2 linked regions of the Homo sapiens genome follow. The protein of the gene in region 2 purifies or fractionates together with the protein of the main gene of each other region. This does not show direct contact. Each region holds a gene or a part of one and is shown on either strand. Other genes may lie near its edges.

Evidence for each region. Proteins that work in one complex are often made in the same cells at the same time.
Region 1: the proteins of SAYSD1 (region 2) and ODR4 purify together in Homo sapiens (affinity purification with mass spectrometry; one large-scale study listed by BioGRID and IntAct). This does not show direct contact.

The regions. Positions count from the first base shown.
Region 1 is NC_000001.11:186,396,338-186,399,837, reverse strand, and holds part of ODR4 (protein odr-4 homolog), read right to left. Parts: intron 1,540-3,500; coding exon of another isoform or gene 1,526-1,539; coding exon 1,397-1,525; intron 885-1,396; coding exon 794-884; intron 1-793. UniProt on the Homo sapiens protein: May play a role in the trafficking of a subset of G-protein coupled receptors.
Region 2 is NC_000006.12:39,108,687-39,112,186, forward strand, and holds part of SAYSD1 (SAYSvFN domain-containing protein 1), read right to left. Parts: exon of another isoform or gene 634-3,500; coding exon of another isoform or gene 628-633; intron 1-627. UniProt on the Homo sapiens protein: Ufmylation 'reader' component of a translocation-associated quality control pathway, a mechanism that takes place when a ribosome has stalled during translation, and which is required to degrade clogged substrates.

The DNA of each region.
Region 1 (3,500 bases), on a different chromosome or scaffold from region 2:
AAGATACTGTAACTCAGCCTTTTTTAAACGTAATGAAGTCTGTTAGAGTAATAGCTGAGAAGCATATAAACTAGTGTAGTTTATATAAATAGTACCTACTAAAGGAGCTATTATATAGTATTTAACACTAATAATATTTTGATTATGGCTAAATTATTTAAAATACTCATAGATATCAACAAAAAATACTAACTTTAAAATGTTAACAAAGTTTACTCATTCTGGCAGGAGAAGTTCACTTGGAATTAATTTTTTTAAAAATCCTCCCTGAAATTCTTAATTGTTGACAAATTTGCTAAATTTGATAGTGTTCTAAAACGTTTTTCTAGAGCCAAGCATGGTGGCTCACACCTGTAATCCCAGCACTTCGGGAAGCCAAAGACAGTGGATCACTTGAGTTCAGGAGTTTGAAACTAGCCTGGGCAACATGGCAAAACCCTGTCTCTAAAAAAACAATACCAAAAATTAGCAAGGCATCATGGCATGTGCCTGCAGGCCCACCTACTAGGGAGGCTGAGGTAGGAGGACTGCTTGAGCCCAAGAGGCTGAGGCTGCAGGTGAGCCATGACTGTGCCACTGCACCCCAGCCTGGGCAACACAGTGAGACTCTGTCTAAAAAAAAAAAAAAAAATCTGAGTAGCAACTGAAAAATTTTCATCCAATAATAAAAGATGATATACTGCTTGAAAATATAGATAGGTAGCTATAAAAGATGACGTATCTGCTATATCTTGATATCTTATTACTATATCAGTTGAAGATACGCAAAAAAGTACTTATTTTATACTCATAACTTTTTTTTCTGGAATTTCATTCAAAAGCAGATCCTCAAATAGCATTTCACAACGATCAGCAACTGTGTTCAATATATCCCTCTTTACTGCCTACAGGGAAAAACACACAAAAAACACAGTAAGAAATAAAATACTTTAGATTTACAATATTTAACTAACAAAAAAAATAATTTGCTTTCCAGTACAATCATGCCCACTAAATAACTGATACATCATTCAATGTTTTATTTCCACTTATTTAGCACACTTATTAACAAATTTATAGTTTAATGATAAATTTATCTAAATAGTTAAAAACAGATAAATGAATAAAATTTCACATCTAAAAAAATAATTGCAGTGTTCCAAATTAGATACTAATATGTATAACAGTGGAACACTTACTAAACTTGTATAGCCATCATTTTTAAAAAGGCACAAAATAGATACTCTACATATGAAAATCTTCACACCAATTATATGGTACATTTGGACTGCACAATAGGCCATTATCAGTTAAAATCGAATTAATAATTACAAAATATAAGATTAAAAAATGGTAAAATTTTAGGTTTTTGTTAATAGTTAACATGGTTCCATATGCTCGTTATTCCTTTTTGTACCTGCACAGCATCTTTAACTTTGGGTTTACTGCTGTGGATATAAGCTCTGCATTTCACAGCACCCTTAAGGTTTACAGAACCGCTACATATCTGGACTGTGGCTGTGGATCTGTGGTCTGAATTCAGGAGCTGAAAGACAAAATCTGTTTAAGTTCTAATAACCAACAATGATTAACTACAGGAAATATTTAAACATTATATTAGCGATTTTATGAAGAGAGAACAAAGTTTTGACTGAGCCAAGCATTTGAAATTATTCTCTGCAAATTATTTAAAGGCCTTCATATTTGTTTTTATAAGTTATATATTATTTTCCAGTCATTTTGAAGATATAATGAAATTAAACACAACTACATCTAAATTTTTCTAACATAACCATCTAAAATGGTTCAATATTCACTCGATATGCTCCTAAAAATATATTATTTGCAAATTATTCACATCAGTACTGTGATGATTAAAAGATATACAAAGAAGATATGATGTACTAGATATAAGTTGTGCAATGCAAAATAAGTTCACAATAACAAATACAAAGTGGGATGTGATAACTATGGTAAAACTACAAGCAATGCACAGACACATATATTTACACACTTTCAACCAAAAACTTTCATAGACTAGTCCCATCCTCTTTAGTCTAAGGAATGCCAGTGCTCTTGTTCGGTTTTCAGGTGTTTCACATATATTTTCAACCCCATCATCTTAATAAGTGCCAAAAACAAGGACAGTATCAAAATAGTTAAAGTACTACAGGTTGAGCATCCCTAATCTAAAAATCCTGAATGCTCCAAAATCCAAAACTTATTGAGCACCAATGTGATGTTCAAAGGAAAAGGTAATTGGAGCATATAAGATTTTAGATTTTTGGCTTAGAGATGCTCAACTGGTATGTATTCTGCAAATATTACAAAATCTAAAAAAAATCCCAAACCCAAAACACTTCTGGTCCTAAGCATTTCAAATAAGGCACACTCAACCTGTAATAGAGGCCTATAATAACAGTGGAAACAAAAAATAATGATTTACAAAAAATAACCAAAAAATGGAAATGGTAAGGAAGTAATTTATGTTCTAAGAACACTTGGAGTATAAGTCATTCAACAACCAAATCAATTCTGAAGAACAAAAGTCAAATCATACAACTTGTGAAAAGTGCTTTGTGCCTATGTGCTTATGCAATCAGGAATAAATGCGGAAAAATAATGAAGAGGAGAATACTGACATGCATAGCTATTGAAAGAGCATTATTGATGTCTAGTGTAATTCAAGCAATGTCTAAGGCAATGTAAATCTTCTAGGTGTTGTTAAACAATTTAAACTTTAAGATGGTCAAGGACTTGTTGACAAAAAATTTGCCACAGACCACACAGCTCCAAAGGTCCTGGGTCCATTCAAAAATGGCTATCATCAAACCAAGCAGCAGTGTGACGATGCTGATACAATGTCTGGAATAAGCTTCCATATGACACATGTAGAGTTCATTGATACATCAATAAGGTGGGGTTGGAGGAGGAGTAACAGGCTTCCCCTATCTACTCCATAACTTTTTATTGTAGACAAAACTACTCTAAAAAGAATGTCCTATTTTACATATTTAACATATAATTTATATATTTTTAACATATAACACATTTATATATTAGTATATGTAAATATATGTGTATGTGTGTATATACATATATCTATCTATCTATCTATCTATCTATCTATCTATCTATAATTATGGCATTGTTATCCAAAACAGACTAGACTATTAAAGACTATACACACACATATTAAAGAAAAGAGGTATTTTTTTGGTTGGTTGGTTAGTTTTATTTTGTTTTGTTTGAGGCAGGGTCTTGTTCTGTCATCCAGCCTAGAGTACAGTGATGCTATCAGAGCTCACTGCAGCCTCAAGCTCCTAGGCTCAATCGATCCTCCCACCTTCGCCTCCCAAGTAGCTGGGACTACAGGCACACACCATCACCCCCAGCTAATTTTTGTATTTTTTTGTAGAGACAGGGTTTCACTTGTTGCTCAGACTCATCTTGAACTCCTAGGCTCAAGCGATCACCCTGCCTAGGCCTCCCAAAGTGCTGGGATTACAGGCATGAGCTAC
Region 2 (3,500 bases):
ACTTGGTTGACCCCTCCTACTACAAACGGCAAAAATGTCACCGTATGTGCCCTTGGCTTAGTCCCCGTTTTTGCCAGGGTGGTTCCTTCTTGTTAAATGTCTCCTCCTTAGTGAGTTCTCCCTGCTCAGCTGATTTAAAATAGTACTCTGCTCCCCTCACCCCTAATTCACTATCACAGTCTACTGGTTTTATCTTTTTTCTTTCATAGCATTTATCTGGTTTTGTTTATTGTCCTCCTTTCCCTGCTGCCCCAAGCTCAAATGCAAGTTGTACAAGAGTAGGACTTGTGTGTCTTAATTACACTGTCTCCCAGGATTTAGAACAAAAGCTGGAACACAGCGGGCACATGACAAGATTTTTGTTGAATGAATGAATGATAGTGAGGGAAAGGAAGAAATTCAAGATGACTACTAGATTTTGCGGGGGTGAGGCACAGCTGTGCTTAGCCAGGCGACTCCAAAGGAGAGCCTTTGAGCAGAAGGCCAGCCTGAGCCAAGGCCTGGAGGTCAGGAGTGGTGGATGGGTATGGGAAATGGGTTCTGGGGCAGGGTGGTGTGCTGGGGGCTTGCCTGGGATATGGCTGGAGAGGGAAGCAGGAGGTTTCTGTAGGAATTTTTAAAAGTTACCAGCATTTTTGTCCTAATGTGGAAGAAGCTCGTCACAGAATTATTTCAGGAAACTGCTTTTCTCCAAGCAAAATCTGGTAGTGGGAAGGAGGATGTAGATACTTCCTCATCAATGACTGCTGAAAAGATGCAGCGGCATTGTCAGTCACAGCGAGGCCCGGGTCGGGGCAGAGGCATCATTGCAGTCAGAGCTTGGCCCAAATGGAGGCCGCAGTGGCTTTGTTGCTCCAAATGACATGGTTTAGTTATTTTGATGGCCAAAGAGTATTCTTTGTGCATATACATTACAGTTTCTTGATCCCTTCATCTGTAGATGGACAGGAGATAAAGTTTTTGGAATCTCCATGCCTGAGATTAAAAGGTGTGGGACTTCCTCTACCAGGCTCATTTCCTTGGACCTAATATCCTCTGGGTTTCTTGGGTTTCTCCACATGGCTGTGGATGACAGGATTTCCCAAAGCTTTATGGCTGAAGCATATTCCATAGTGTATCTGTATGGTGGTTTCTTTATCCCTTCAGCTGTGGGTGGACAGGACAGGTCATTTACCATGATGTCCTCTAGGTTCAACAGTGTGGCTGCAAATGATGTAATTTCATTACATTTTTCTGGATGAAGAGTATTCCATTTGTGTATATATACTACAGTTTCTTTATCCCTTCATCTGCGGATGAACAGGTTTCTCCACATGGCTGCAAATGACAGGATTTCATCCACTTCTGTCGTGGAAGGGTATTCCATTCTGGATATATATTTCAGTTTTGTCATCCCTTCATCAAGGGATGAACAGGTTCAACTGTGTGGCTCCAGGTGATATGATTTCAGTATATGTGCACAGCTGAAGGGTATTCCATTGTGAATGAATACTACAGTTTCTGTATCCCTTCATCTGTGGATGAACAGGTCTCTCTCCACGTTGCTGGAAGTGGGGTGATGTCCTAAAGTTTGATGGCTGAAGAGTATTCCATTGTGCAAATATCCTGGAGTTTCTGTATTCCTTCATCTGTGGATGAACACGACTGCTTTACATTTGGCCTGTGCCAATGGCCATGTGGAAGTGGTCACTCTCCAGGTGAACTGAAAGTGCCAGACTGACATTGGTGACAAATGAAACAGGATGCCTTTGATGAAGGCTGTACATTGCCAAGAAGAGATTTGTGTCATCATTCTGCTAGAATGTGGCACCAACCCAGATCTTATGGATGTCTATAGCAACAATGCACTACACTATGCTGTGTATAATGAGAATACACTACTGGCAGAAAAACTGCCCTCACACCATGTGAATACTGAAGTGCTGAACAAGGATACTGAAGTGCTGAACAAGGATGCAAACACACCACTTTTACTTGCTATAGTTTGCAAAACACAGCAAAAGGTGGAATTTTAGTGAAGAAACAAGCAAATGTACATGCTGTTGATAGGTTGAAAAGAACAGCTCTCATGCCTGTTGTACATTATGGCTTGTCAGGTATAGTTAGCATTCTTCTTCAACAAAATATTGTCTTTACTCAAGAGTATGTATGAACAGACTGCAGATTATGCTATTTCTGGTGGTCTGACAAGCACTCACAACAAATTTTGCAACATTAAAAAAAAAAGATACTTGAAAATGGTCTTCAAAATGACAACCCAGAAGAAGCATCCAAGAAGAATGCAAGTTTGAAAACAGGAGGAGCAAGTGCAAAAGATTCTGGGAGTTCTGAAGCATCTGCATTCAGTATTTAAAAAAAAACTGTGTGTTGACTCATGGCCTAAACCAGATGATGAAGACTTGACTTTTACTACCAAGCAGTGTATCCCTGAGAGTGTTTCAAAGTCTTTACTTGGACCTTCATATAAAAAAGGAAAAAATATATAGTAAATGGAAAGGGAGAAGGGCCTCCTGAAAAACATCCTTCCCTAAAGCCTACCATGGAAATGAAAGATTCTGTTGTGAAGAAAGCAATAGAAAGGAAGAACGAACAAACATCCAAAGCAGAACAAGAAGTACAAGTGACATCAGAGGAAGAACAGGAAAAGCTTGAAAGTGAAAATAAACAGCCACAGGTTGAAGAAGCTAGAAAGAAGCACGAAAGTTAAAAAAAAAAAGTATCAAAAAAACGTATATGATAGTACATCTGCTGACGATGATGATAAATTAATTCAACAAAGAAAGAGTGGAAAAACTTACCATCAGCGATTTCCTAGGAAGGAGAACAAAGAGTATGCTAGGCCTGCAAAGAAAATGTCAAATGAAAAGAAAAAGGTCAAAAAGCAAACTCATTTAGAGATGAACCTGATGACTTAACTCGGCCCTCTGAAACAGCTTCAGAGGATCATGAGAAACCTTACCCTCATTGTAAGAAGTTTATGATGCTCATTAAGCAATATGGAATGGATTGTAATGATTCTCGTATCCTAATGGAAGTCCAGAATGCATTTCTTTCATGTGAAAAGTCACTGGACCTTAAAAAAAATTATCTGTGAACAACTTACACTAGACAATAAGAAATATGAAAACTGAGTTTAGTGTACTGAAGGAGCTATCCAAAACACAAGAAACGAAGTCACAGTTCAATATCAAAAAGTAGAATGGAAACAGGAACTCTACAGTTTGCAGCTTAGAAGAAGATGAGAAGAAATGCTAATATGTTATATGAAAAAATTAGGGAAGAGTTAGAAAGGAAAGTGGAGCAACATAGGAAAGAAGTTGAAGTAAAAGAACAGCTTAAACTGACTATCGGATCACTAGAAATAGAATTGAAGGCTTGAAGAAATACTTTAAGAAAAAAAAAGATCTGATGCATGAAAATTGCTTGTTGAAGAGAGATATTGCCTTTATTGTGTATGTAAGTATACACAATAAAAAATAGGAACCTCGAAAGGGAAAAAG